Homo sapiens: one gene and its partners. The protein of the gene in region 1 interacts with the protein of each later gene in a biochemical or structural test. Each region holds a gene or a part of one and is shown in the gene's direction. Other genes may lie near its edges. The genes, in order: TRPV4, DEGS2, DCTD, CDPF1, DAPP1, KIRREL3 and C4orf36.

Evidence for each region.
Region 2: the proteins of TRPV4 (region 1) and DEGS2 interact in a test that uses a peptide from one of them, tested with the Homo sapiens proteins (one large-scale study listed by BioGRID).
Region 3: the proteins of TRPV4 (region 1) and DCTD interact in a test that uses a peptide from one of them, tested with the Homo sapiens proteins (one large-scale study listed by BioGRID).
Region 4: the proteins of TRPV4 (region 1) and CDPF1 interact in a test that uses a peptide from one of them, tested with the Homo sapiens proteins (one large-scale study listed by BioGRID).
Region 5: the proteins of TRPV4 (region 1) and DAPP1 interact in a test that uses a peptide from one of them, tested with the Homo sapiens proteins (one large-scale study listed by BioGRID).
Region 6: the proteins of TRPV4 (region 1) and KIRREL3 interact in a test that uses a peptide from one of them, tested with the Homo sapiens proteins (one large-scale study listed by BioGRID).
Region 7: the proteins of TRPV4 (region 1) and C4orf36 interact in a test that uses a peptide from one of them, tested with the Homo sapiens proteins (one large-scale study listed by BioGRID).

What each region holds. Positions count from the first base shown.
Region 1 is NC_000012.12:109,788,399-109,791,898, reverse strand, and holds part of TRPV4 (transient receptor potential cation channel subfamily V member 4), read left to right. Parts: intron 1-3,156; coding exon of another isoform or gene 3,157-3,182; coding exon 3,183-3,499; intron 3,500-3,500. UniProt on the Homo sapiens protein: Non-selective calcium permeant cation channel involved in osmotic sensitivity and mechanosensitivity. Activation by exposure to hypotonicity within the physiological range exhibits an outward rectification.
Region 2 is NC_000014.9:100,153,146-100,156,645, reverse strand, and holds part of DEGS2 (sphingolipid delta(4)-desaturase/C4-monooxygenase DES2), read left to right. Parts: intron 1-3,500. UniProt on the Homo sapiens protein: Bifunctional enzyme which acts both as a sphingolipid delta(4)-desaturase and a sphingolipid C4-monooxygenase.
Region 3 is NC_000004.12:182,907,387-182,910,886, reverse strand, and holds part of DCTD (deoxycytidylate deaminase), read left to right. Parts: intron 1-3,500. UniProt on the Homo sapiens protein: Catalyzes the deamination of dCMP to dUMP, providing the nucleoside monophosphate substrate for the thymidylate synthase/TYMS.
Region 4 is NC_000022.11:46,243,513-46,247,293, reverse strand, and holds the end of CDPF1 (cysteine-rich DPF motif domain-containing protein 1), read left to right. Parts: intron 1-72; coding exon 73-184; coding exon of another isoform or gene 185-188; intron 189-498; coding exon of another isoform or gene 499-617; exon of another isoform or gene 618-621; intron 622-2,055; coding exon 2,056-2,202; coding exon of another isoform or gene 2,203-2,480; 3' UTR 2,481-3,281; downstream 3,282-3,781.
Region 5 is NC_000004.12:99,833,827-99,837,326, forward strand, and holds part of DAPP1 (dual adapter for phosphotyrosine and 3-phosphotyrosine and 3-phosphoinositide), read left to right. Parts: intron 1-1,796; coding exon 1,797-1,919; intron 1,920-3,500. UniProt on the Homo sapiens protein: May act as a B-cell-associated adapter that regulates B-cell antigen receptor (BCR)-signaling downstream of PI3K.
Region 6 is NC_000011.10:126,997,971-127,002,242, reverse strand, and holds the start of KIRREL3 (kin of IRRE-like protein 3 isoform 1 precursor), read left to right. Parts: upstream 1-1,472; 5' UTR 1,473-1,733; coding exon 1,734-1,788; exon of another isoform or gene 1,789-1,950; coding exon of another isoform or gene 1,951-1,963; intron 1,964-4,272. UniProt on the Homo sapiens protein: Synaptic adhesion molecule required for the formation of target-specific synapses. Required for formation of target-specific synapses at hippocampal mossy fiber synapses.
Region 7 is NC_000004.12:86,875,705-86,879,063, reverse strand, and holds the end of C4orf36 (uncharacterized protein C4orf36), read left to right. Parts: intron 1-2,620; 3' UTR 2,621-2,859; downstream 2,860-3,359.

The sequences.
Region 1 (3,500 bases):
TTGCCTCCCAACAAGCCTGTAAGCTAAGTGCCTTTATTATCCCCTATTATAGAAAAGGAAACTGAGGCTTAGGAGGGTTAAATAACTAGCACAAGTTCAAAAGCCAGTGAATGGTGGCCGGGCGCAGTGGCTCACATCTGTAATCCCAGCACTTCAGGAGGCTGAGGCGGGTAGATCACTTGAGGTCAGGAGTTTGAGACCAGCCTGGCCAACATGGCAAAACCCCGTCTCTACCAAAAAATACAAAAATTAGACAGGCATGGTGGCGCGCAACTATAGACCCAGCTACTCGGGAGGCTGAGGCACAAGAATCGCTTGAACCCAGGGGGTGGAGGTTGCAGTAAGCCAAGATGGCACCACTGCACTCCAGCCTGGGCAACACAGCGAGACTCTGTCTCAAAAAAAAAAAAAAAAAAAAAGCTGGTGAATGGCAAAACTGGAGTATTAGCTATTGCTACAAAGGAAGCCACCTAAAGTGGGGCTTAAAATAGCACCCACTTATTATTATTATTTTTTTTGTGGCAAGGTCTCACTCTGTCACCAAGGCTGGAGGGCAGTGGTGCTCTTGGCTCACTGCAATCTCTGCCTCCTGGGTTCAAGCGATTCTCTTGCCTCAGCCTCTCGAATAGCTGGGATTACAGGCGTGTGCCACCACGCATGGCTAAGTTTTATATTTTTGGTAGAGATGGGGTTTCACTATGTTGGCCAGGCTGGTCTCGAACTCCTGACCCCAAGTGATCCACCCACCTTGGCCTCCCAAAGTGCTGGGATTACAGGCGTGAGCCACTGTACCAGGCCAACTTACTATTGCTTATGAGTCAATGGGTCAGCTGGGTGGCTGTGCTGCCCTGGGCCAGGTTTGGCTGATCCCTACAGGCTCTTGTGCCTGTGGTCAGCTGGCAGGCTGGCTGCTGGCTGACTGGTCTAGCTAGTATGGACTTGGTTAGAGGGGGTTTGCTATCTATCTTCCACATGGTCACTCATTTCTGGACAGCTAGCTTGGGCTTGTCCACATGGTGGCCTTAGGGTTCCAAGAACATGAGCAGAAGTGTTCAAGGACACCTCCTGGCATGGCATCACTGCTGCCTTACTCTGTTGGCCAAAGCAAGTCACAAGGCCAGCCTCGATTCAAGGGATGGGGAAATAGACGCCACTTCTTTTTTTCCATTTTTTTTTTTTGGTGGAGGCAGGGTCTTGCTATGTTGCCCAGGCTGGTCTTGAACTCCTGGGCTCAAGCAGTCCTCCTGCCTCAGCCTCCCAAAGTGCAGGATTATAGGCGCGAGCCACTGCACCTGGCCTAGACTCCACTTCTTAGTGGGAGAAGCTGTAAAGCCACATTGAAGGAGGATGGATACATGGAAGGATAAAATTTAATAATTAAACTAGCAGCCCAGGTATTTTCTTAAAGCCCAACATCAGCTCCCTTGATATACCTTCTTCGTGATGTCATGATGCCACTAAGAAGCATTCTGGGACCTCAGTGGCATGGGTCATGGGAGAAGGACCAGGGACCAGGGCTGGAGAAACTGACCAAGTCCTTGGGCTGATCCCCGAGGTGTGGGTAATCTGACATCAATGCCCAGCATCCAAAGGGGAATGGCCAACTCAGGTTAGACCTGGACACATACACATCTGAGCAGGTTCATCTGGGGACGAGCCTGGCACAGGAATCTGACAAGGGTGATATTTTAACCCACGATAGTGGCCAAGTCTCTAGGTAGATTATTGGTGGGAAGTGGAATTGTAGTTTTCACTGGGGAGATAGGGACAGGGTACAGCTTTCCCTTCCCAGGGATCACACTGGACAAACTAGACAGTGTCAAGGGTTCAACAACAGTTTGGGATTCAGGTCAGGGATCTAGCCCTACTGCAGTCCTAGTTATTGAAACTAAGGAGAAACAAGGGTTAGAGTAGCAGCTTAGCAGTCAGCTTGGTTGCAGGTCTTCTCCTTATAGGATGCACTAGATCTCAATTCTGAGGCTGACATGACATAAACAGGACACACATGCTTCTGTTCCCACACTTTGGTGTCCATAGCAGACATCACTAATGGATCACAGAACAGTTTTTCCGGTGAGTCCAGACAAGGTCTCAGAATCCTTCTCAACACAGTGTTTCACCAGGTACTATACAACTGAAGAACATTAGCATATGAGTTGAAATCTGCATACTCTAATCCCTGGTTGCAGGCAGTATGACATTCTGTGCCCCACTGACTGATGGGACTGAGTCTTCTTCATGCTCCCCTCCCTGGCTGGTTTAGGGACAGGTTGTTGCTGCCAAACTGTGTTGAGAAGGAATCTGAAGCTCCACCTGGGCTTAGTAGGAAAGGAGAACCATGATGAGTTTGAGATGTCTAGAGCAGGAGAGGCCCCTTAGAGAACACGGCTTTGGGGACAGTCAGGACTGATGCCTGGTTTCAGCCCCCACTTTTCCTCTCTGGGTTGGGGTGGAGTGGGAAACTGTCAGAGAGAGAGTCTACCCCTGCGAATAGGGGCATTCCAGAGCCCCCAAGACCTCTAAGAATGGTAGGCCGCATTAGGATTTCCCAACACTATTGACATTTGAGACCAGATCATTCTTCGTGGCGGGGACCATCCTGTGCATTGTAGGGTGTCAGGCAGCACCCCTGGCCTCCACCCACCTGATGCCAGTAGCACCCCCACCCCCAGTTGTAACAACCAAATATGTCTCTAGACATTGTCAAATGTCCCCTGGTGGGAAAAACTGAGACCCTCCCTGGACTAGATCCTGAAAACCTTTTCCCTCCCGGTAGCAGGGAACCACCAGGTTGTGTAAGGAGGGGTGAACTGTCCCAGGTTGGAAACAGAGCAGGTCAAAACTCCTACGCTTATCAGTAGTGGGATTGAGCCTGTGAGTAGCCACTGCACTCCAGCCTGGGCAACATAGCAAGACCCCATCTCAGAAAGAAAGAGAGAGAGAGAGAGATAACCTCTTCCTTATCAGCAAGAGTTTATGGAAAGGCTTCAAAGGTTTTGGGATCAGGAGGACCTGGGTCTGGTGTGGCTTGGCTGATGTGTAGGGTGACATGGGTCAGCGTGTGGGCCAGCGTGCTCCGCTCACTAGGCCTCAGCTTTCTCCTCCAGCAAATGAGAATGACACCCTCCACCTCTCTGTGGGTGTGCTCACACTCAGTGAGTGCCACCCCTATCCTCCCACAGCCCTGGTCTCCCTCCTGAACCCGTGTGCCAACATGAAGGTGTGCAATGAGGACCAGACCAACTGCACAGTGCCCACTTACCCCTCGTGCCGTGACAGCGAGACCTTCAGCACCTTCCTCCTGGACCTGTTTAAGCTGACCATCGGCATGGGCGACCTGGAGATGCTGAGCAGCACCAAGTACCCCGTGGTCTTCATCATCCTGCTGGTGACCTACATCATCCTCACCTTTGTGCTGCTCCTCAACATGCTCATTGCCCTCATGGGCGAGACAGTGGGCCAGGTCTCCAAGGAGAGCAAGCACATCTGGAAGCTGCAGG
Region 2 (3,500 bases), on another chromosome or scaffold:
GGGCACAGTTCAAGAGCTTGGCTGTGGAGCTGAACCCCTGGCAAGGACCCTGACACCCACTTATTAGCCACGGGTGAGTCTGTAAACAGATGAAGGAGTTGGGGCCTGGGCAAATGAAAAGGGGTTAATAAATCATACCTTCCTAATGGGGCTGCTGTGCAGATTAAACGAGGTGATATGTAAAGTGCTTATTCCAGGACTCGATGAGTATCAGCTGCGATGATAATGATTAATGTCTCAGAGACCTGGCAAGGGCTGTCGTTTCCCTAAGGACAGGGAATACTCTCTGCTTCCTCCATGCCTATGCTATTCCCAGGCCTTGGAGAAATGCTCTGTGTAACTGCCAGCATCTCTTTATAGAAGAGGCAGGAGTGAGGCTGAGAGAGGGGAAGCAACTTGCCGGGGAACACACAGGCCAGGCTGGTGCTCAGGCAGCCTCCTGCCCCACCCAGCTGGCTCCTGCAGCCTATGCCAAGCTCCTGGGTGCCCAGGGATGTTCAATAAAGATCATAATCTGACAGTCAGAATCCAGGAAGTCCTTGCAAAGAGCTGGCTCCAGGAGCTCTGTGGGTTGGGGCCAAAGTCCATCTCCAGCTCCTGCCGGGGAGGGGGACATGCTCCCTAGAACATAACTTCCTAAGAAAGTGGGGTCTCCTAGGCCAGGGCTGAGGCTCCCTGACCTGAAAGGGCAGGACCGGAGCCAGCGAGACTGGCCCCATCAGAGACCCAGCCAGGCGTGGCCGGTGGAGTAAGAGGCAAGCTCTGGGTTTGTTTTTTTTTTGAAAATGAATAGCTTTGTAATTTTGTTTGTTTTTAAATTATGAAAGCAGGGCACACATGGTAATACAAAAATTCAAATAAAGAAAAACAAAAGAGGAAATCCCGGAAGCGAAACTGCTGGCTGTTGCTGGATTATTTGCTTCAGAAAGGCCGGGGCTGAGGCTCTGTCAGTGGTAACTGGTAAAATCCAGGACCAAACTGCCAGAGCCACAAGGGGATCCTGGGGCTCCATCTCCCAGCCACAGAGCTGCCCGGCTGCAGGGTAAACCCATCTCTGTAACGTACGGGGGCCTGGCTGCTCCCAGATCTTCAGTATATATTTGTCACTGGAAATGAAAGGCAGGTTTAGTGAGCGGCTGGTGAGAAGCTGGACACTTGCCACACTTTCCAGATCCAACTAGGTCCCAGGGTGCCTCCCACACTGGACAGGGTCAGGCTTGTCTCTTGGCACAAAACCTCAGGTGGCAGGGATGGAAGCTGTGGGTAGGTGGCTTCCCAGAGCATTAGGCCAGGGCTGGGAGGAAGAAGTTTAGGAAGGAGGGGATTAGGAGGGCTTTGCTGCCTTTGTGAGGAGAAGCTTGTCCCAGGTCAGGTTACTCAGCTGTGGATGGGTGGGGAAGAGGCCACGTTGTATGGAAGCATTTCCTGCTGTGGCCACCAGGTGGCATCGTCAACCCTGAGCAGGTTTGTGGTGGAACAGGGAGCTGGGAAGCAGGTGGCGGCAGAGGTGGAATGTTGGAGGGATGATGGGCAGTGACGGGCACCTCCCATGTGGCCAGTGAGTGACTGTCATATGATGGCATTTGGCCTCCCTGGGAAGGTGATACAGCAGGTCTCCCTAGATGTTGCCAGAGCCAGGGCTTGGGGGCTCACTGGGGCCCAGTGTGGAAGAGATAAGAGGCCCCTTTGCTTTTGGGAGCCCTGCTGGGGACAAGACAAAAGTGACTTTATTGCCAGCTAGTCAGGAGGGGCAGGGGTGGAGTGGCCTGTGACTGGGAGTAGGGGTGTGGCGTGGGGGGGCCCTGTCTCTGCTACTCTTGGAGGCAAGGGTACAGCAGCCTCTCTGGCCTGGCTGCCTGTTTCTGATGCGGTCCCTCTGCTCAATGGCTCAGCAGATTTGTCAGGAGCATTTCTGGGCAAAGGCTGTAACCCATCAGAGTCGCACCAGGGTGATGCAACTGTCCTGTGGGTGCAGGGGGCTTTGGGCTGGCCTCCCTTCAGCAGGCCCTGCCTCTGGCTCTGCCCTCTGGCATTTTATGAGTGAGCCTGCTAACTGGTATAAGTGTGCAGACGTTTCACACCTTGGCATCTGCTGCCCCTTCTTCTCCATAGGCCCCTAGGGAAGACCCCACCTCCATGGGCTCCCAGCCACAGAGGCTGTCAGAGCAGATGCCTTACAGATGGAGACTGAGGAGACAGGTCCAGAGAGGGACAGGGGCTTGCCCAAGGGCACACAGGAGTCTGACTGAGCCTGATCCATGATTTTTTCTTTCTTTTTTTTTTTTTTTTTGAGACGCTTTGTTGCCAGGCTGGAGTCCAGTGGTGTGATTTTGGCTCACTGCAACCTCTGCCTCCCAGGTTCAAGCAATTCTCCTGCCTCAGCCTCCTAAGTAGCTGGAACTACAGGCGCACGCCACCTTGTCCAGCTGATTTTTGTATTTTTAGTAGAGACGGGGTTTCACCATGTTGGCCAGGCTGGTTTTGAACTCCTGACCTCAAGTGATCTGCCCGTCTCAGCCTCCCAAAGTGCTGGGATTACAGGTGTGAGCCACTGCGCCCAGATCTGATCCAGAATTTTCTCTGGGTGCTCTGTGGCAGTGTAGCCAAGCACTAGATCGGTGCTGATGGAGTCTGAGTCCACATCGGGGCCTTGCTCACCATTGTGCAGGCCTGGAGTCGGGGGTCCTGAGTTCAAGTCTTGGCTCGGTCAGCCTTGTTGCACCTTGGTGGGCCCTTCTTTGCACCTCCCTTGACCTCAGACCCTTCCTGAGTCCTGCCTGGACAGGGTGACTTCTAGCAACAGCTGTTGTTCATGGCCACCTGCCCAGATGCCTTGTGCCTCACCTGGGGCCGCTGCTGGAAACCGTCTGTGTGGGTCTGTGTATCTTGGTTCCAGGTGGCTGTGCACGTCGGGCTCTGTGCTGCCCCACGGAGCAGAGAGCCCTCAAGGCACATGTGTCTCCCAGCTACTCCTGCCATCCAGGCTGGAGGTGTGGAAGGGCAGAGTCACACCTGAGGTCAGCTGAGTGCCCACAGCAGGACAGAGTTCCCAGGCTGGGCCAGGTTTGGGTGTCTAGCCAGAGCCCATGCAGGCCTGCAATTCCTCATGGGGCTGCCAGGGAGCTGTGTCTCTCCCTGTCCTTCTCTGCCTTGGGCTTTCCCCCTCTCTTGTGGCCCAGAGAAGATGGGGCCCAAGGCCATGGAACCCATTGACTCCCACTCCCCAGCCCCACCCATTCTCCCTGTCCCCCTTTCTTTGAGGCCCTGGAAGAGGCCCTGTATTAGTGTTCTCCAGAGAGACAGAACTGATAGGATCTATGTATCTATCTCTCACATCTATTATCTATCTATCTATCTATCTATCTATCTATCTATCTATCTATCTATCTATCTGTTTTTGCCATTACTGTCGCCCAGGCTGGAGTGCAGTGGTGCAATTGCGGCTCACTGCAGCCCCGAACTCCTGGGCTCAAGCGATCTTCCCACCTCAGCCTCCCAAG
Region 3 (3,500 bases), on another chromosome or scaffold:
TTGTAACATAATAGGAAGATGGAGCTTTTCCTGGGCTGTGTCTCTAGAGAGTTATTTTTAAAGGGTGTTTTTGTTCTTCCAGTCTTGGGATCAAAACTTCATAAAACTATTTTATTATAATGTAGTATTAATGTGGAAAATGAAAATTCCCTCTGCTAAAGAAGCTTTTTATTCCATCCTTTTCCTGAAAAATCCAAAAGATAATATGATGTCAGTAACATTAAGTGGCAGGAAGAAGGCAATGTTATTATACTAAGAATCTTTTCAGATGAATGACAATTAAAAAAGAGGAAGCAGCAGATTTATCTAATTTACAAGATTAAAAAACTTGGGAAGATTTTTATTTTCATGAGGGGGTGGGTTGCTAAACCTGTGATGAAGTATTCAGTTGACATTTTTCATTCCTTTTTCTTTGTGGAATTCATTATAGTGAAGCACATTTAATCAAAATACCAATGTTATCAAATGAGGTAAAATACTCTTGGTGATTCAGATATCACTCTTTCCTTGGGTTTTCGTAACCGATTTTGATGATATAGTTTACAAATTAGAGAGTTGGAGAATTAACTTGTTCCCGTTGTTAAACTTAAGGGAATTTTTAGTAATGCTTGCCACATGTATCCAGCTGCCCAGCACTTGTGGCCTTGCTGATTTCTGCTGGCAAAGGGCTCTGGGTTTTGGTGAGTGCCTCTGTGCTTGGCCTCCTATCCCACCCAATGGACCAGGGAGCCAGGGTTGCTTGGCCTGCTGCATCTCACTGCACCAGGGAGGGAACCGTAGCATCTCAGTGTCCCCAAGAGTCGGGGGAGGCCTCACTCTGAGTGCGTTGGGTAGAAGTGGGGCTCTTACCCGAGTCAGTTCCTATGTCTACAGGGATACTCTAAAAAGGATGTAATGCTGGGAAGGAAAATGCTGAAAAACCTGGAATTAATTAAGGCGAAAGAGTTCAGCAGAGCATCTTAAACACCTTTGCCAGTGTGGGGCAGTGCCTCTTTAAATTCTCTATTTAAATTTCATCTTTATTTTTCAGACTTAGCATATTGTTAAGCATGCATAGATGTCACTTTTGTGATTACTTAGCCATTTACTTTACCCCCTTGAACACTGACATTTTCCTGACTGCCATGCACGTGATATATTTCTTTGGCATCTGAAAGGTTAGTGTTGAGAAACTAATTTATCAAGAAGTTAGGAGGCTGATCCTTCTTAAGATATGACTTCCTCACAACTTGTAAGAGCTTCTTAGTAATTAAGATCAAATTTGTTCTTTCCGTCCTGAAATTGAATGTCCTCTGGTTTCGTTAGTCAGTCCATGAATTTGATAACTTGCTGTTTCTTTTCCTGCAGAATTTAATTTCACTTAAAGCTTCCTGCCGCTCCTCCCCTGCCTGGCCTTCTACTAGTTGTGGCCCGACAGCAGGTCTAATTAGGGACTTTTGTACAAAACTACTGTTATAATCAATGGAAAACCTTTGAACAACTGCATAGAAAAGAAATTAAGTAGATTATTTTTACGAATCAAGGGGCAAACTCAGCTGTGATCGTGTGGGGTTTCAGATAAACAGAGGGACACACCAGTGTATATATGAGTCTTCTCCCACCCACTAAAATCAACCAGCTCCATGTAAGCATGTTTTACTTTAAGATATAATTGTTTATAAACAGTTTTCAGAAAGGAATAAATAATGATATTTTAATATAATTTATTTTGATATTTATGTATTTTTATAGTTACAGAGTTAATTATTTTTAAAGTGCTAGAGTTTACTATTTCATTATGAATATCTATGAAAGACATATAGTAACAAAATAACTCCTTGTTTTGAAGAGCACACATGTTAGGAAAAGCTGAAATGTTTGGGGATTGGACCTACCCATGAAAATACACATATCTGTCTCCTTTCTATAAAAAGTGACTTTTGAGTCAGTTCACCTCGTAGAAGTTTGAAATAAAACTTAATCTAAAGTAGTGGTTCCAGGGTTCCCAGAAGTGGGCTGAAGTTTATCTTTGTACTGTAATCTCTCAAGATAAAAGGTTTGTTGAAAAATTAGTAGCCTTGATAAAATGTCAGGGGCACATGCAAACTAATTTAGAAAACAGCTATGTTAAGTATTTGAGCACATTAATGATCTGAATGCAAATGGATATTCCTTCTTTATTTCTTCTTCTTCTTCTTCTTCTTTTTTTTTTTTTTTTTTTTTTTGAGACAGAGTCTTGCTCTGTCACCCAGGCTGGAGTGCAGTGGCACAATCTTGGCTCACTGCAGCCTCCACCTCCAGGTTTCAAGCGATTCTCCTGCTTCAGCCTCGGAGTAGCTGTGTGATTACAGGCACGTGCCACCACGCCTGGTTAATTTTTGTATTTTTAGTAGAGATGGGGTTTCACCATGTTGGCCAGGCTGGTCTCAAACTCCTGACCTCAGGTGATCCACCCGCCTCAGCCTCCCAAAGTCCTGGGATTACAGGCTTGAGTCACTGTGCCCGGCCACTTCTTTATTTCTTTAACTTTGCTAAGTCTTTGCTTAGAAACACAGGGATTGCTGTACAGTGTGGTTACCTGAGAATGATTACTCTCATAGTCTTGATTCTGGTGATCTGTTCTATGTCAGTTGTGCTGATTTTGACTGATCTTCTCTGAAATTGGCTGAAATGACTAAAGCTTTATTGTATTTTGAGTTTTTTTTAATCCGGAATCTCCCTTCAGGAGTTTTGTTAATACCAGCTATATTAAAGTAGAATATGAATATATTGTTTGCTCCCAGAAATACACAATAAAACCTAGTTCTTAGAGATTTTTGCAAATGTTTGTATTGCTTTTTACTTTTACTTCCTGAAGACTTTTTTTTTTTTAATCTGGATAGGGATATGCATGTCTGTAATACACACATTAGCTAAGTAAAGCCCCATAGTGCTTAAAACAACAATTGCCATATTCACACGAAAGAATCCTGGAGCCGCCGTAAGGAGCCAAGGGTTCCAGGTTTGGTATGTTCATGCCCAGTGACTGTGGGGCTGTTAGAGGCATCACCTGACATTTATTTCTCAATATCTCTATGAAGTAAATTATCACTGAAGATTCTTCCAGTTCTCTTATTCCAAGGAAAAATATAAGTATTATAGCTTTGATGGCATTAGATTAGTATCTTTTTCTCAGCTTACGGAGTTCTGAAAGCGTTCTCGGTCAAATCAGAGCTGTAAAAAGCTGTTGGAGGCAATGCCACAGGGAGAATGTGCATGTGTACATATGGATAAATTAATAGAAACAGGCGCCTTTCCCTCCCTCCTCTAACGATTAAAGACTGGCGCAGTTCTAAGATGAATATAGACCATATGGAGATAGGATGCATGAATAGGAGGGGACAGTCAGACTGTAGGTTACTCCACAGACATGCAGATTAAAAGACATTGGATGAGAAAAGGTTGGATAACAGCAATAAAGAAAAAGATCCTAGCTGAGTATGGAGTGCACGCCTGTAATCCCAGCACGTTGGGAAGCCGAG
Region 4 (3,781 bases), on another chromosome or scaffold:
GCCATAGGTCATGGCTGATTTTCCGACGGCAGAGATTTGGGCTGTTCTGACGCTGCATTCACTCTCCTGCAGCCTCCTGGAGGAAAGCTATGTCATGAAGGATCCCTTCACCTCCGACAAGGACAGATTCCTGGTCCTCGGCTCGTGCTGCAGTTTGTGCAGCAGGCTGGTGTGTGTGGGCCCGGTGGGTAAGCAGCGTGGGCTGGGGCCACCTGTCCTTGCTGTGGTTATCCTGGAGCTCTCCCTGGGTAGGGAGGGCTGGGAGAGAGGGAGCAGCGGGTTCACCCCATTATAGATGGGGCCCCTCAGCTGATGAAGGGGAGAGGTGAGAGGGCAAGCTAGGGTCAGTTAGAGGGTCTCAGCCTGGTGTAGGAATGGAAATAGGTAATTGGTGGCTCTGCACCCACCCCAGTGGCCCCTCAGGGTTCCTCCCCTTCCCACCAACAGTGCAGACAGTCCTTGTGCGCCCTCTCACCAGGATGGTGACTTACTTTCTAGATGTTCTTGGAGGGATCTCCAGGAGAAGGGACTGTCCTTTCATGAGCACTTGTTGTGTGCCAGGTCCTGTGCTTGGGACCTGTTTTACTGCTGAGGCTTCATTCAGTCCTGCCCCTTAGTCAGGTAAAGCAGTATTATATTCCACCCATTTTATAGATGAGGGAACTGAGCTTCAGAGAGGCTGGGTGGGCCAGGTTCACCTGGGTAGCTGTAAACCCAAGGACGGATGGAAGTGGAGCAGCATGGCTTTCACAGCGTGCCCAGTGTACTCAGAGTGACCCCAGAGTCTGAGAAGTCCCTGAGCATCTGCCACAGGTTGACACACACAAAGGGGAGCTGTATCAATAGCCAGGGGGACGAGATGGGCCAGGGTGGGAGGAGCCTCCGCAGTGTGGCATGGGAGTATCTGAGGCTCATGGAGGAGCTGGTGGTCCAGGAGAAGCTGGGAAAGGAAGACTGCAAAGGTGGGTGGGCCAGGTGGGGAGGTGGAGGTCTTGAATGCAACACCTTGGCCTTGGGCTGCTCTTCGTGAGCAGCGGGGTGGCGGGGGTGGGGGGCGCACGCAGGTACCACAAGTCTGCAGCTTTCTTTGTTTAAACAGTAGGTTGTTAGTGAGCGGATCTCCATGGCGAAGGGTCTTTTCTAAGAACTGCAGGAGGGCAGCCTTATGTTTGCGAGCACACTAAGCTTTAAGAACAGACAGACACCAAAAATAAGAGTGGCCTAAGTAAAGCAAATAGTTATTTACTTACTTTCTCCTATGTAAGAGTCCAGAACTGGTGGCCTTGGCTGGAAGGGCACCCCTGTTGTCTTCAGCAGAGTCTCTATTTGGGTCCCTTGTGGCTGTGGAGCTCCCACCATCATATTTGCATCCCAGGCAGCGGGAAGGGACGTGAGAGCACAGTCCATGCCTTCAAAGGGCATGACCAGGAGGTGGCACACACAGTTGCTGACGCCCCTAACCAGCCTGAGTCACATGGCGATGCCCAGTTACAGAGGGGGCTGGGGAATGTCATCCTTAGCCACGTGCTGTGCACCGTGATGAATCTCGGGAGTTCTAGTGTGTAAGAGAGAGGAGAGCGGACATGGCTGCACGGTTCTGGCCTCCTGCCCAGACTAGCTGGCTCGTCCATGGCGTCTTTGGTCTGTGGGGCTGTCCTTCCTGTCCCCTGCCGCTCCCAGCACCAGGTGGCCACTGTTCGTGCTGCGATAGCTGGGACGGGAGGACTCTGGGATTTTCGGGGCATGGCCTGTGCTCCAGCTTTCCATTGTTGTCACTGCCCCGTGATGGAGCAGAGCAGGCCCCAGAGTCTTTCTGTCCCATCCCAGCTGTTCCCACCCAGGGTAGCCCAGGCCTGCATTGCTTTTCTCCTGGACACCCTGCCAGGCCCTCAGGCCTGGCTCTCCCTCTTGCTGGTCTAGCTCTGGCCACCTGCCCACACTGTGCATGCTGGGGCCCCAGCCCAGCCCCCCAAGTGTGGGAAGGGCTGGCCCCTGGGAGGAGCTGCACCATGTTCCCAGGATACTCAAGCCTCCATCCTTGTCCACTTCTTTAAGGAATGCAGTTTATTCTACTCCAAGAGATTCTGCCTCCCTTGTGTCCGGGAGAACATCAATGCTTTTCCTCAGGAAATTCGGCAAGACTTGGAGAAAAGGAAAGCTCCATCAAAGAGGACCCCCAGCCAGCCCGGTTCTCGGACGTGAGTGCAACTGGGGCTAGGTCATCGGGCGGCACCCTGCACAGAGCTCCTGGGCCAGCCTGCGCCAGGGATGCTGCTGAGCTGGGAGCCGCCATGCCTGGCCTTGTTTCTGGACCACTGGGAGCAGCACTGCAGCCCAGGGGAGCTGGAGTCCAGCTTGGAGCAGCCACAGGCCCAGGGAGCTGTAGCAAGAGGGTAGTCCAAAGGCAGATGCCAGACAAGACACAGCCAGGAACCCGGCCAGGTCCCCCCACATGCCCCTCAGGGCCCAGGCCTGAGTGAGTGCTGCTCAGATGTGACTGAGAGGGATGACCTCCTTCAGCAGGGCAGCTCCTAAGAGGCTGCGTGCAGGTGCGTGTGGGGGGAGATGCCACACTGTGTCGGGGCCATGGTGCACTGTAGGTGGCTGCAATGGTCTCTCTGTAAGGAAAATCACTGACAGCAGCTCCTTCTGGACCCAGTCTGGAAGGTCTAGAGGGGGATAGAATTTTTATTTCATATCCTTATGTGGTGCTTGGAAAATGTTTTTAACCTTGACCATGTATTATGTTTATAATTAAAAACCCAAAGAACCAGCTCATGTTTGGAAAAGGAATCTTCCACTGAAACATTTGGATACCCGACGTTCTCCCTGGACACTTGGCCCGGCAATAGTTGGGGTCTCCTGGGAAGCTGAGTGCTGGCTTCTAGCCTCTCCAGTTCCCTCAGACTCTGTCTTCAGCTCGGGCCCCTCCGTTCTGTCTCCCTCGACTCCAAGTCAGGAATACCGTGGGCTTCCTGCCCTCACCCCACACCTCAAGACCATCCCACTGCTTGCCTGCTTGCCCCCTGCCATCTCGCACTCAGCCCTGGGTGCCTGTGAAGCCTGGCCCCACTGCCTGCCGGGGGTTCCTGCAGCACCCCCCTACTCCAGGCTCCCCATCTCCCTGAAGCTTCCAGGGTAGCAGCTGGTGGGACACTGATCTGTGAGCTCTGGAATGTCTGCTTAGAATTCTGAGAGGCAGGAACTGCTCTGTCTTTGTAACTACTCAAGGCCAACTGTCACATGAAGGAATGAATAAAGAGTTTTTACTGACTTGTGCACTGATGGACTTTAAGATGCTCACTGCTTTAAAAGTTCCCGTTGTATGTGACTTCAGACGAAAGGATGTCGTATTCCGGAGCCAGATTGTCCTTGATCCATTCTGTATGTTGAAGGACACAAAAGGGACTGTGCAGGTGGAGACAGCCTCCATGAGGGGCGCAGGGACTGTTCTGGCGGAGGGCGGACCCCACAGCTGGGGACTTGGTTCTTTTAGACCAAACAGTCCATCTCGCAGCATCACTCAAAACTCACCAAAAAATTTTAAAAAATAGTTTATTTTTTAAAACCATTAAGGCAAAACTGTACCCTGAAATTAACTCTGTACATTCATCAGTCTTACAGTAGGACATCCCAAACACAGAAGTTCCCATATATTCAGGATATAAATCAATACATGTGGTCAGTTCAGTCTCCTAATAGGAAAACGAAGACCCAAGATTTTTTTTTAAAATTAAGGTTATTTTATAGCCATTTTCTAATTGCCTGGAACCAATCAGTT
Region 5 (3,500 bases), on another chromosome or scaffold:
TTTTTGGATCTCAATGGCTTCCTGGTAGCAATTAACGCATACTAAGCACTGCTTTAGTTGCCAGGCTTTATGGAGCACATCTCATCCATGTTAATGTGTGCAGGACTCACAACTGGCCTATGCCGTATGCCTATTAGTCATACTATTTTAAACATGAGGAACCAAAGCTCAGATTGGTTAAGTAACATGTCCAAGGCCATACAGCTAGTAAGAGGTACCACCTGGATTGGGACCCAGGCAAAGCAACCCCCGGGGCCACAATCCTAATCATCACATTTCATGCCTCTATGACATCGTTTAAAAGAATGTGAATGACCTGTTATTGGAGAAAAGAAAGATGGTGCAGAGCAATATGCCTAGAAAATAAAAATAATAAATAATGCTCGTATGTTTGTAGAATCAGGAGTGGAGGTACACATCCAATGCCTCTAAGTGTGTAGACTATCTCTTAAGAGGAAGCACAGGAAAATGGTTACCAAGGTGTCCTCTAGGAAAGGAACAGGGAGCCTGAGGGCCCAGGGTGAAGAAAACATGTTTTGCTATGTCTCCTTTTGGACAATTTGAATTTTTTTTTTTTTACCATAGATATATATTACCTTTTCTAAAACACAAATATCATTTTGAATCTCCTTGAGCATTCCCTAGCTCTTCAGATACTTGTCAGGCTGAAACAGTACTTGGTGGCATTTACTTCATACTATAATTCCTTCCATCCAGCTTCGTTTCACTCATGACAATAGCCTTTAGTATTATAGCACAGAGGTTTCGCCGTGAAAAGGTACCACACTTGAAAAAGAGTGTGAGAGACCAAAAAAAGAAGGAAATTGGTCAAAGCCTATTCTTATGGTATTTTGACTTGGACTTTAAAAACCAATTCTGATTACAAAGCAACACTGTATTAGTTTGCTAGGGCTGCTATAACAAAGAACCACAGCCTGGGCAGCTGACTATAAGAAATCGATTGCCTCACAGTTCTGAAGGCTCAAAGTCGGAAATCAAGGTGTCAACAGGATTGGTTCCTTCCGAGGGCCGTGAGGGAGAATCTGTTCCAGGCCTCTTCCTGTGGCTTGGAAGTGACTGTCATGTTCATGCGCTGTTCTCCCTGTAGGCAAATCTATCTCCTGATTTTCCCTTTTTACAAGAGGACACCAGTCATATTGAATTAGGGCCCACCCTAATGACCTCATTTTTTTTTTTTTTGAGATGGAATTGCACTCTGTTACCCAGGCTGGAGTGCAATGGCATGATCTTGGCTCACTGCAACCTCCGTCCCCCAGGTTCAAGTGATTCTCCTGCCTCAGCCTCCCGAGTAGCTGGGATTATAGGTGCCTGCCACCATGCCAGGCTAATTTTTGTGTTTTTAATGGAGACGGGGTGTCACCATGTTGGCCGGGCCGGTCTCGAACCCCTGACCTCAAGTGATCCGCCTGCCTTGGCCTCCCAAAGTGCTGGGATTACAGGTGTGAGTCACCACACCCAGCCATGACCTCATTTTAACTTGGTAAAGACCCTGTCTCCAAACAAGGTCACATTTTGAGGTACTGAGAGGTTAGCACTTCAACATAAGAACTTTCAGGACACAATTCAACCCATGTCACGCTACTATTAGTCAACTCTGTGCTCTCCTTTCAGCCCCACCCAGGGATTTCCTTGTCCTAATGTTGGGGCTGAGAGCTGGGTCTCTGGGCTACTTATCTTGAAGAATGTTGCTAGGTAATCTTTGCAAGGAAAAGCCAGTGCAGGGGGAGTCATGCCATGGTTTGGCCTGAGTGAAAGCGCTGTTCCCTCCTTTCTAGGTGGTATCACGGCAACCTCACACGCCATGCTGCTGAAGCTCTTCTCCTCTCAAATGGATGTGACGGCAGCTACCTTCTGAGGGACAGCAATGAGACCACCGGGCTGTACTCTCTCTCTGTGAGGTAAGGTGCTTCAGGGCTCTACGACTTCAGCATGGGCTCCTCTGTCACTTACTGACTTTATCATCACTCAAATTGCCAGACAGCAAAACTTCCCAATTCCTGTTGGACCACCAGGTTAAAGGATTCCAAACTCTAAATGATGAGGGTGTAAAACAACATTCCTGCTCCATTCATTAGCAGGAAAAAAATTGTTAGAGCTGGAGGAGACATGAGGAATTATTTGATGGAAACCTTTCATGGGACTGTTGAAGAATCTGAAACCCAAAGCGGTGGAATGTCTGGTACCTCAAAAATCAACAATAGAAACAGTGCCAGAATCCAAATTCCTGACACCTGGCTCAGTGTCCTTTTCACTATTCTTTGATTTCTCTGTAAATGCAGAATGATTTATGACTGTACGGCTTTCATAGTCACAACCTCAAGGAGGCAATATACATGTTTAAAATTTTTCCTATAGTGGGCTAGCTTTTCATATTGAGTCTCTATTTCTCCCAAATGGTAAGAAAGTTAATCCAGTCCCCACCAGGTTCATACAGCCAAATGCAGTCATTGTCCAGATCTTTCAGGTCCTCCCCACCTCACACCCCCTTCTTTCTGTCTGGTGCCCCAGATCAGAGAGGCTGACCAAGCTTCTGGTAGTCAGGGGAGGCGGCTGGTTCTCAGTCGCATCTGACACTCTGGCTTCCACTGACATGTAGCAAGTATTCTTGGGTTTTTAGGCGCTTCTCCATGGATTAGGCAGGGGATGTAAGGACTCCATGAAATTTCCCTCAGCCACCCACCCATTAAGCTCAAACTGTTATTGTGTTACTGTTCTGATGGCACCTCCATATACCCTGGAGAGTCACTCTTCCCTTCATAGTGCAGTTCCTCAAGCTAATCTGGCCTCAGAGGCTCTCTCACTTCTTTCCCAGTCTACACGGTCACTACTGGTCACTAACTCAGTAGCAGCATTCACATTGTCTCTTTGGGCTCTGGGCCTTGCTTCTATATTCATTTTCTATGCTACATAACAAATTATCAAAAACTTAGGGACTTAAAGCAACGCAACTGGATTATCTCACAGTTTCTGGCTGGATTCTCTGTCCAGGATCCTACCAGGCTGAAATAAAGGTGTTGGAGAAGCTTGTGGCTCTGATCTGGTATTTAGTGTCTTCTTCCTTCATTTTCTCCTTTCCTCTTCATCCTTTTTCATCCATTCCCTTGCTGCCGTAGAACTGAGGTCCTCCTTTTCCTTTTAGCTGTCAGCCAGGGGCCATTCTCAACTCCTAGACGCCACCCACAGTTCTTTGCCACATGGCACCCATGGCTGTTTACCACATGGGTGTTTGCTTTCTTGCATGCCAGCCAGAACACATCTCCCTGACTTTTTCTTCTGTGAGCAGCCAGAGAAAACTCTGTTTTACAGGGCTCATGTGATTAGTTCAGGCCCACTCAGATAATGTCCATATCTTAACATCAACTGACTTGGGACTTTATGACCTGCTAAATCCCTTCCCAGTAGCATGTAGACTAGTTTTTGATTGAATAATTGGGATAAAGTGTGTGTACTCCAGGGGCTGGGATTTGGGATCATCTTAG
Region 6 (4,272 bases), on another chromosome or scaffold:
CAGACACCTACTAATTTGTAGATCTTTGGTGTCAACTACCAGATGTCAGCTCCTACTAGCACACTTCTATATGCCCCTGCTTCTTTCTTTCTTGTTCACAAATACCAAGGGATAATTTTTTAAAGTTAACATCCGCATGGAAACTTGGAGTTGGAATGTGCCTTGTAGTGAGCAGAGTCCTCAAAAGATGTGCTACTACTGAAAGAGGAAAGGCTAAGAGTTTCCCAAAAGACCTCCCCAAGGTCCAGGGACTGAAGACAGTAATGACTGATTTTAGAATTGAATGCTAAATGGCACATGTCAGGGGAGCGTCTTTCATTTTCCTCTCCTCTCTCTTTACCTCTCCTTCTCACAGTGCATAACGTTGAATATTTTTCTGTGTTGTTTTGTTATGTCCTTAGAGTTTGCATCTTGTGTGTGTACTCTGCTTGCACACTAGATTATGAGCTTCTGAAGGCATGGTCTGTGCCTATTATTTTGCTTCCCTCCATGGCCTGCTTATACCAAGCATGCCTAAATGTCTATTAAGTAAATAGACCCAGATAAATTCATGTTGATATCCTGGAGGAAACCGAGTTTGATTTGAGTGTGGAGTGTGAATTTCATGACAGGTAAAAGGCTTGAAGATCCTTAGGACGCAGTTGTCTATGACCTTGGCCTCTCCTTTGCAATTGGACTCACAGCACCTCTTGGAGAAAAGACAGGCTCAGAGTGATGGAGCGCTCATTAGAGGAGAGGCTCTGAATGCAAAGACAGGCTGCTCCCCTGTCCTCGTTAGGAAATGCACAAACCAGGATAATGATAATAAATGGGTGTGTGTCACAAGCCTACTTGCCTTCCCTTTAGTTCCTGCATTTTGTCTTCCAGGAGCAGTGCAAAGCAAACTAAGATCCAAATGTTCAGGTTTTATTACCTACCCCCCCCCCCCACCACAACCACCCACCCACCCACAGGAAACTCTCAGAAATGCAAAGCATGCTTATCTCTTCTCCAACTCCGAGCCTCCCGCTGCACACATTGGCCAAGTCCTTCCGAGGGAAAGATGCGCACCCCCCCTTCCTAGTTCCCTTTCAGCCCAGTTTCCAGTTCCTTTGCAAAGGCAGGGCGTGCATGTTTTTGTGCACATGCATGTGGATAGTCATCCTTAACTTCACTGTTAAACAGGACATCGTGTGGACAAAAAGTCACAGCTCCACTCCAAGCTCAAGATGCCTTTTGGTCAATAATGGTGACAAAAGCTGAATTTTTCCCTATTTAGGGAAAAGAAAGAACACAGCCTTTTCCCCCACTGTCCGTTTTGCATAGATCTCCTTTTTCCGAGTGTTTCCTCTTTAATTATGACCTGTCTCCCCTCCCTCTCCCCTCGCCTCAGCTTCAGTGAAAGGAGTCCTTCTGTCACTCGTCACTAGCTCGCTCGCTCACTGTGGGAGGAGCCCGCCTGAGGAAGCCGTGTGCCTGGGATGCCAAGAGCCAGAGAATGGATCTTCTCCGAGTGGGGACATTGCTGACAATCCCGGCTTCCCGAGGCGGCTAAGAACAGGCAGTTTGTGTCGGCTGGCTGCAGATACCCAGAGGCACAAAGAGACCGAAGCCACCCGGAGGGACCCACGGACGGACAGATGGTAGGCGCGAACCCGAGAGGACCGGCGGAGGCTGAGCACCGAGAGCCGCCAAGGAAGAGAAACTAACCACAGCCAAGTTACCCCGCCGGCTTTCCTTCGCTGCGCTAAGGAATGAAACCCTTCCAGCTCGATCTGCTCTTCGTCTGCTTCTTCCTCTTCAGTCAAGGTAGGACCCCTGCGCTGCTGGAGTTGGAAGAAAGTCGGCTGGGTTGTCAGGGCGCGGGAGGCTGTGGGCAGGAACGTGGGCAGGCTTCGGGAACTCGGACTGATGGATGCGTCTCTCGGTGCCGGGCTGAGATGCTCTGGCATTGCCTCTTCGCCTTTGCGAATGCAACAAAATGGTACTGTTTATTTTCCTTTGGAAAGAAGGGGTATGGGAGGGGAGGGGAATGACTTTCTCCTCTCACTTGTCAATATCCAGCTCAAACTCTCCAATGCAAATGAGTTCTTTATGCTTCTGGTATGTTAATTAGGTAGTATCTCTGTGGTTATGCCGCTCTGAACTTCTGGGCACCTCCTCTCCTTCAGACCCAGGCCAGGGAAGGAGACGGCAGGGAGGGAGAGCTTGGTTTAGGTGGATATTTCAGCTTGAATAGGGTTTGACTTGCACAAGTGTATTCAAAAGCGAATGTGTGTGGTTTGCACCGTTGAAAAGGGGGTTGCAATTACAGAATGTATTGTGGGGGGTAATTTGCAGTGGTTGGGAAAAGCTTGTAAAGAGTTTCATTGAACGTCATCGAGTTCCCTAAATTAGGTTGAATTCTGAATCCTACACAGCACTGAATTCAGGGTATAAAATGAAATTTCGCCCGTGGTGCTGATGGTTTCCTTTCTGCAGCCTAGCAGGGGCAGAGAAGCAGGTGGACTCTCCGGAAAGAACTTTGCCACCTCTAGGCTCCTTGCCACTGGGAGCCCTGGGGCTGGTAGTGGTGCAGAAAGGAGAGGGAAATTCGGGAGAGGGAATGTGAGTGCCTAGTTGGCCAAAGGCATCAAAAGTCACCTGTGGAATTGAGTTTGGAGGGGCAAGTACATGGGCTCCTTCCCGCTCTTTTGGAATGCCAATGCACCTCTGCCATCTGAGGCTGCATTTGTGCCAGCCAACACAGCTCTTAGAGGTGCAAGACTCAGAAAAAATCCACAACAGAGCACGTCCATCTGTTGATTAAATGAAGGGTAAAAGTTTTCGAGAAAGCAAAGCACTGCCATGGGTGGCTGGCTTTGCAAGCAAACAGCATGTCTTCTGTTTCTCCCCTGTCGGGGAGAAGCCAAATATAAGCAAAAACCTGGCTTCCTTCTTCTGCTCTTCCACCCGTGCTTGTGGTCACTGCAGACTTTCTCCTTATCTGTGCAGTTCAAACTTTGCTTCTGGTCCTCCTGATGAAACCGAAGGGGCTCCTTCTTCATATTTGTATGTGCATACTAATGCCTGTGTATAATGATAATGTATGTACACACACACACACACACACACTCATGTATTCATATGGTTGTGTGCTTCTCACCAAGGCTCCCTACAGCAGCAGGAAGATAAATTGCCTTCCCCAGAGTTTCAGGCTGAATGAATAAGAACTCTCTCAGAACACTGGTATAGAGACAGGTTCAGTTATATTACCATTTGGTAAGATTACCCTCTTTCTTGGATGTGTATGTGCTTGCTTATGAGCACACACACACACACACACACACACACACACACACACACACTCCCATTCGTCTTTGCTTCTTACCAGTTCACTCAGGAAGTTTTGATATAGAACCCCTGAGAAGGAGGGAATCTTCCAACCAACCCCCCGTAAACACACAAACTCACATTTGCATGGGACCAGTGCATGCTTTAATCAGCCTTTTGTGTAGTTAGAAGCTTGATCCGTGATACTTATGTAGATTGGCATAAGAAGGCTATAGGTGTCTAAGTACCTCCCTGGCCGTCTGAATCATTACAGTGTACATCTTCTGTTGTGCTTATTTCTTTCTTGGTCTGGAGCTGTTTCTTGACTGCTTCATGTGAATCTTTAAATATTTACCTATGGAGGTTAAATGCTCTGTTTTATCTACCCCGAGTCCTGAGAGCGCTAGGAAGAAACCATAACATCATGCAGTTCTTAATGCCTTGTGCTCCTGGAGTGTTCTGAGCTTGGCCATCACTGTCCACCCTACCAAATGGTAGATACCTGGTCCAGAGGCTGGAAAACAGGTCTAAACAAAAATGAGGAGACCCAAGTGGACATGGCTGGTCAGATACCCTGCATCCCTGTACATGGTGTGCTTCTTGAATAGACAGTGTCCGACTATGGGAATCAAGGGGTCCAGCCATCAAGTGGGAAGGTGTTTTATGGACTTCACTGCAATGTGATATGGTTATCTTTTGCCTTGATCTGTGGAAATTTGTTTATGTGGATGTTGTTTTGAGCATTATGAATTCCCCAGAGGATTCTATTTGACCATCCTCACATATATGCTTAGCTCATGTACTGTGCCCCACCTCTACCCAGTGTCATGCATTCATCAACTTATTGGATAGAACGCATCCATGTCTAACAGGTCCTGGGAGGTCTAGCCCACATGGCTCTAAATGGCTCCACTGTGATCCCCCAGAATGAGGCCTGAGGTTACACCCCCCCACCCGGCACCCTCACACAGCCACCTGCTT
Region 7 (3,359 bases), on another chromosome or scaffold:
CAAATAAAAAACAGCTACCTCTCCCAGTCTTTAGACATTGGCTTCATGCAGGGGAGGGTCTTCACCAGTCAGCCTGGCTAGAGTGTATGGCGACCTCCCAAACCTTTCTGGGAATGCATCTTCTCTGGGCTTGTGTGTATAACTTCCCAGTTAAAAAAGGTTTACTTGCTTCTTCACTGGAGCTCATAATCTTTTGCTTTTCCTGGTGTCTGTCTGTGGTACTACACTCTCTCCAGTGCTGTAACAAACTGTGGAGCTTGCCTTTGTTCCCAGTGGCCCCCCAACTTGGCATCCAAACTGCTGTTCTGGTCACTGTTCCAAGTCAGGTAAGATAGAACCCAGTCCTTGAGCAGCATCCCCGAAAAACCAGAATGTTGGATAAACAGTGCATTCATCTCTTTCACTCCTGAGGAAAAATGGGGTTAGAATTTTTCTCCTGGTTGTGCCACCTTGTGCACGGGAGAAGGAATGGCTAGGGCAGGTAAAATGCCATGAATTTTCCTACCCATTTCAATGCACTTGCTGAGGTGCTGCAACCTCTTAACTTGTTTCTGGAGTTCTTACTAAAGCAGTTTGGTTTGTATATTGTTAAGTCAGTGTCTTCCTTGGTGAGTGAGGATCTGAGGCTTCCTATTCTGCCACCTTACTGATATCACTCTGCAAATATAAAATTTTTGATACATTGCTATCACTCTGGGATTTGGGGGTTATGGATAACTTTGAGGTTACAAACCTATGCATTCCAATATCGAGTCAGTAGCATAAATGAGCAAAATGGTCCAGTGAAGCCATACAGGGAGTGCAGAGACTGGAGAAGGGGAGAGCATGCGCCTCCTCCAAAGGGGCAGCAGCCACTCAGCTCCAGTCTGTCGGTGCCATGCTAGAGTGGCATTGAGGGGATAATCTTCCAGTTTGATTTTCCCAAGGGGAAGATCTTCCAATTTTTTTAGAGAATCTGATAATAAAGATGAAAAAAAAAAACACATGCAACTCGTTATTGTGGAAAATTTCAAACATGCAAGAGTAGTAAGAATAAGAAAATGAATCTCTATGTCTCTATCACCTTGCTCCAGCACTTATCAACTCACGGCCAATTTTATCTCACTTATACTCACTCACTTTCCACACCCCAGTTCCCACCATTGGGTTATTTTGAAGTAAATTCTAGATAGCATATCAGTACATCTGTAATTATAGAAATGCAGATTTTATAAATGTAGATTTCCAATTTTATAAAGGTGCGGAACAATCAAAGCATCCTGGGGGTTATAATCCATGTAGGTCCATAGTTTAACCTCAGAGTAAGGAGTTGTGTCTGGTGGTTGCTGCTTTGACATATTTAGAAGCCATTATCTGAATTATCCCGATATTTTCTTCTATCTGTGACATATGGCACAAATGAAGAGCACTTTGTGTCAGGAGTTTTGATGTGAGTGACTCATTTGATTTAGTGATCCTCATCCCTGAAAAAAGTTGTCAGGAACCCAGGCTCTGTATATAGCCTTGGCTGTGTGACTTGAGAAGGTGGAACATCAACATTCCTAGTCCAAATTTGCCTCATAAAATTCCAGTGTGCTCTGTGTAAGACTCTGATCTGCCAACCAGAAACATTCCCAAAGTTTCTTGGCTGAAAGTCTGGGAGTTGGAGCTTTCACCAGATTACCCACTCTACTCTTTCTTCCCACTTCCTTTACATACCTGTCCTCTCCTATTTGTTCTTTCTGACATTTTGACTAAATTTCCTCCATCTCAGTAATTATCATAAATATTAGAGCTGGATTGTTAACTGGTTAAAATGTGGAAAAAGACCATTTTACGATTACACAACCAAAGATAGTTGTTAGCAGAAATTTAGTGTGTTTTCATTTCTTTGGAAATCAAAACCAATTCAATTTTCTTTAAAAATTAACAATCTCCAGCTGTATCAACATATGTTTTGGACTGTGAAAAGATTCATGCTGTATTTTTATTTTTGTAGTCCACATCCCACTGAGCGGCCTGAACTCTTTCTTTTTAGGGTTACTGTCACTAATCCATCTAGTCTCAGGGATAATACTTCCAATAATTTATTTGAAAACTGTAAATATTTTAAAATCTAAAGTCCGCAAATCTACTGCGCAATATATCTGGCATTGTTGCTGTTAGTTTTGATTTCTTAAAAATCAGATTTAGATAAGATAGTAATAGAGAGAAAACTCTAGGTTTTAGTAGATCTGGGTTCTAGAGTCTTCCCTGTCCCAATTAGTTGTATATCCATGAGAAAATCTCTTTTTTTTTATTTTAAAATTGCAACCAATTTTATTTTAATTTTACTTGGATGCAACAGCCAGAGAACTTTCCTAAATTCTGAATAGTAAAGATCACCCATAGCTTCACCATACAATTTCAGAAAGATACACTGTGTATGTAAATACCATGACCATCCAGAAATTTTCTTCTGGTTCATTGAAGAACTGTCTGTTCTTCTGTGTATGTAAAGATTTTGCAGGTTTTGATGGGCTAAAGGTCCTTGTAAACTGTACAATAGCTTCACACAATCCGACATTTCTAATCTTTTCATTTTTTCTACCTCATTTGGATGATAAAATAAAATCTTATTTTCCCCCTCTCCTTTGCGCAGCCTGAAGCGCGGATTGTAGATGAAGAAACTCAGCAGCGCCGGCGGGAACTGCTTCTCCTGGGCCGCCCAGGACCCGCTCCCGGCCCCGGCCGTCGCTGCGCTGCAGCCATCCTGGCCCGGCCCCCACCTCAGGAAGCCTCCCACGGCCCGCCCAGAGACCGAGAAAATCTCTTAATTTCAGTGGAACTCAGTTTGTTTCTCTTTTTAAACATTGCCAGTTATAAATGTATTTTATTTTATATTATTTTTATTTATTTATTTATTTGAGACCGAGTCTTACTCTGTTGCCTGGAGTGCAGGGGCACAATGTCAGCTCACTGCAAGCTCCGCCTCTTGGGTTCAAGTGATTCTCATGCCTCAGCCTCCTGAGTAGCTGGGACTAGAGGCGCAAGCCACCACGCCTGGCTAATTTTTGTATTTTTAGTACAGACGGGGTTTTGCCATGTTGGCCAGGCTGGTTTTGAACTCCTGACTTCAGGTGATCCACCCGCCTTGGCTTCCCAAAGTGCTGGGATTACAGGCATGAGCCACTCTGCCCGGCTTCTGTAAATGTATTTCAAATAAAGATTTGTTTTTTAAAACAGTAGTTTCCAAGCTGGTCATGGTGGCTTATGCCTGTAATCCCAGCACTTTTGGAGGCTGAGGTGGGAGGATCTCTTGAGGCCAAGAGTTCAAGACCAGTCTGAACAAAAGAGTGAAACCCCATCTCTACAAAAGCAAAAAAAAAAAAAAAAAAAAA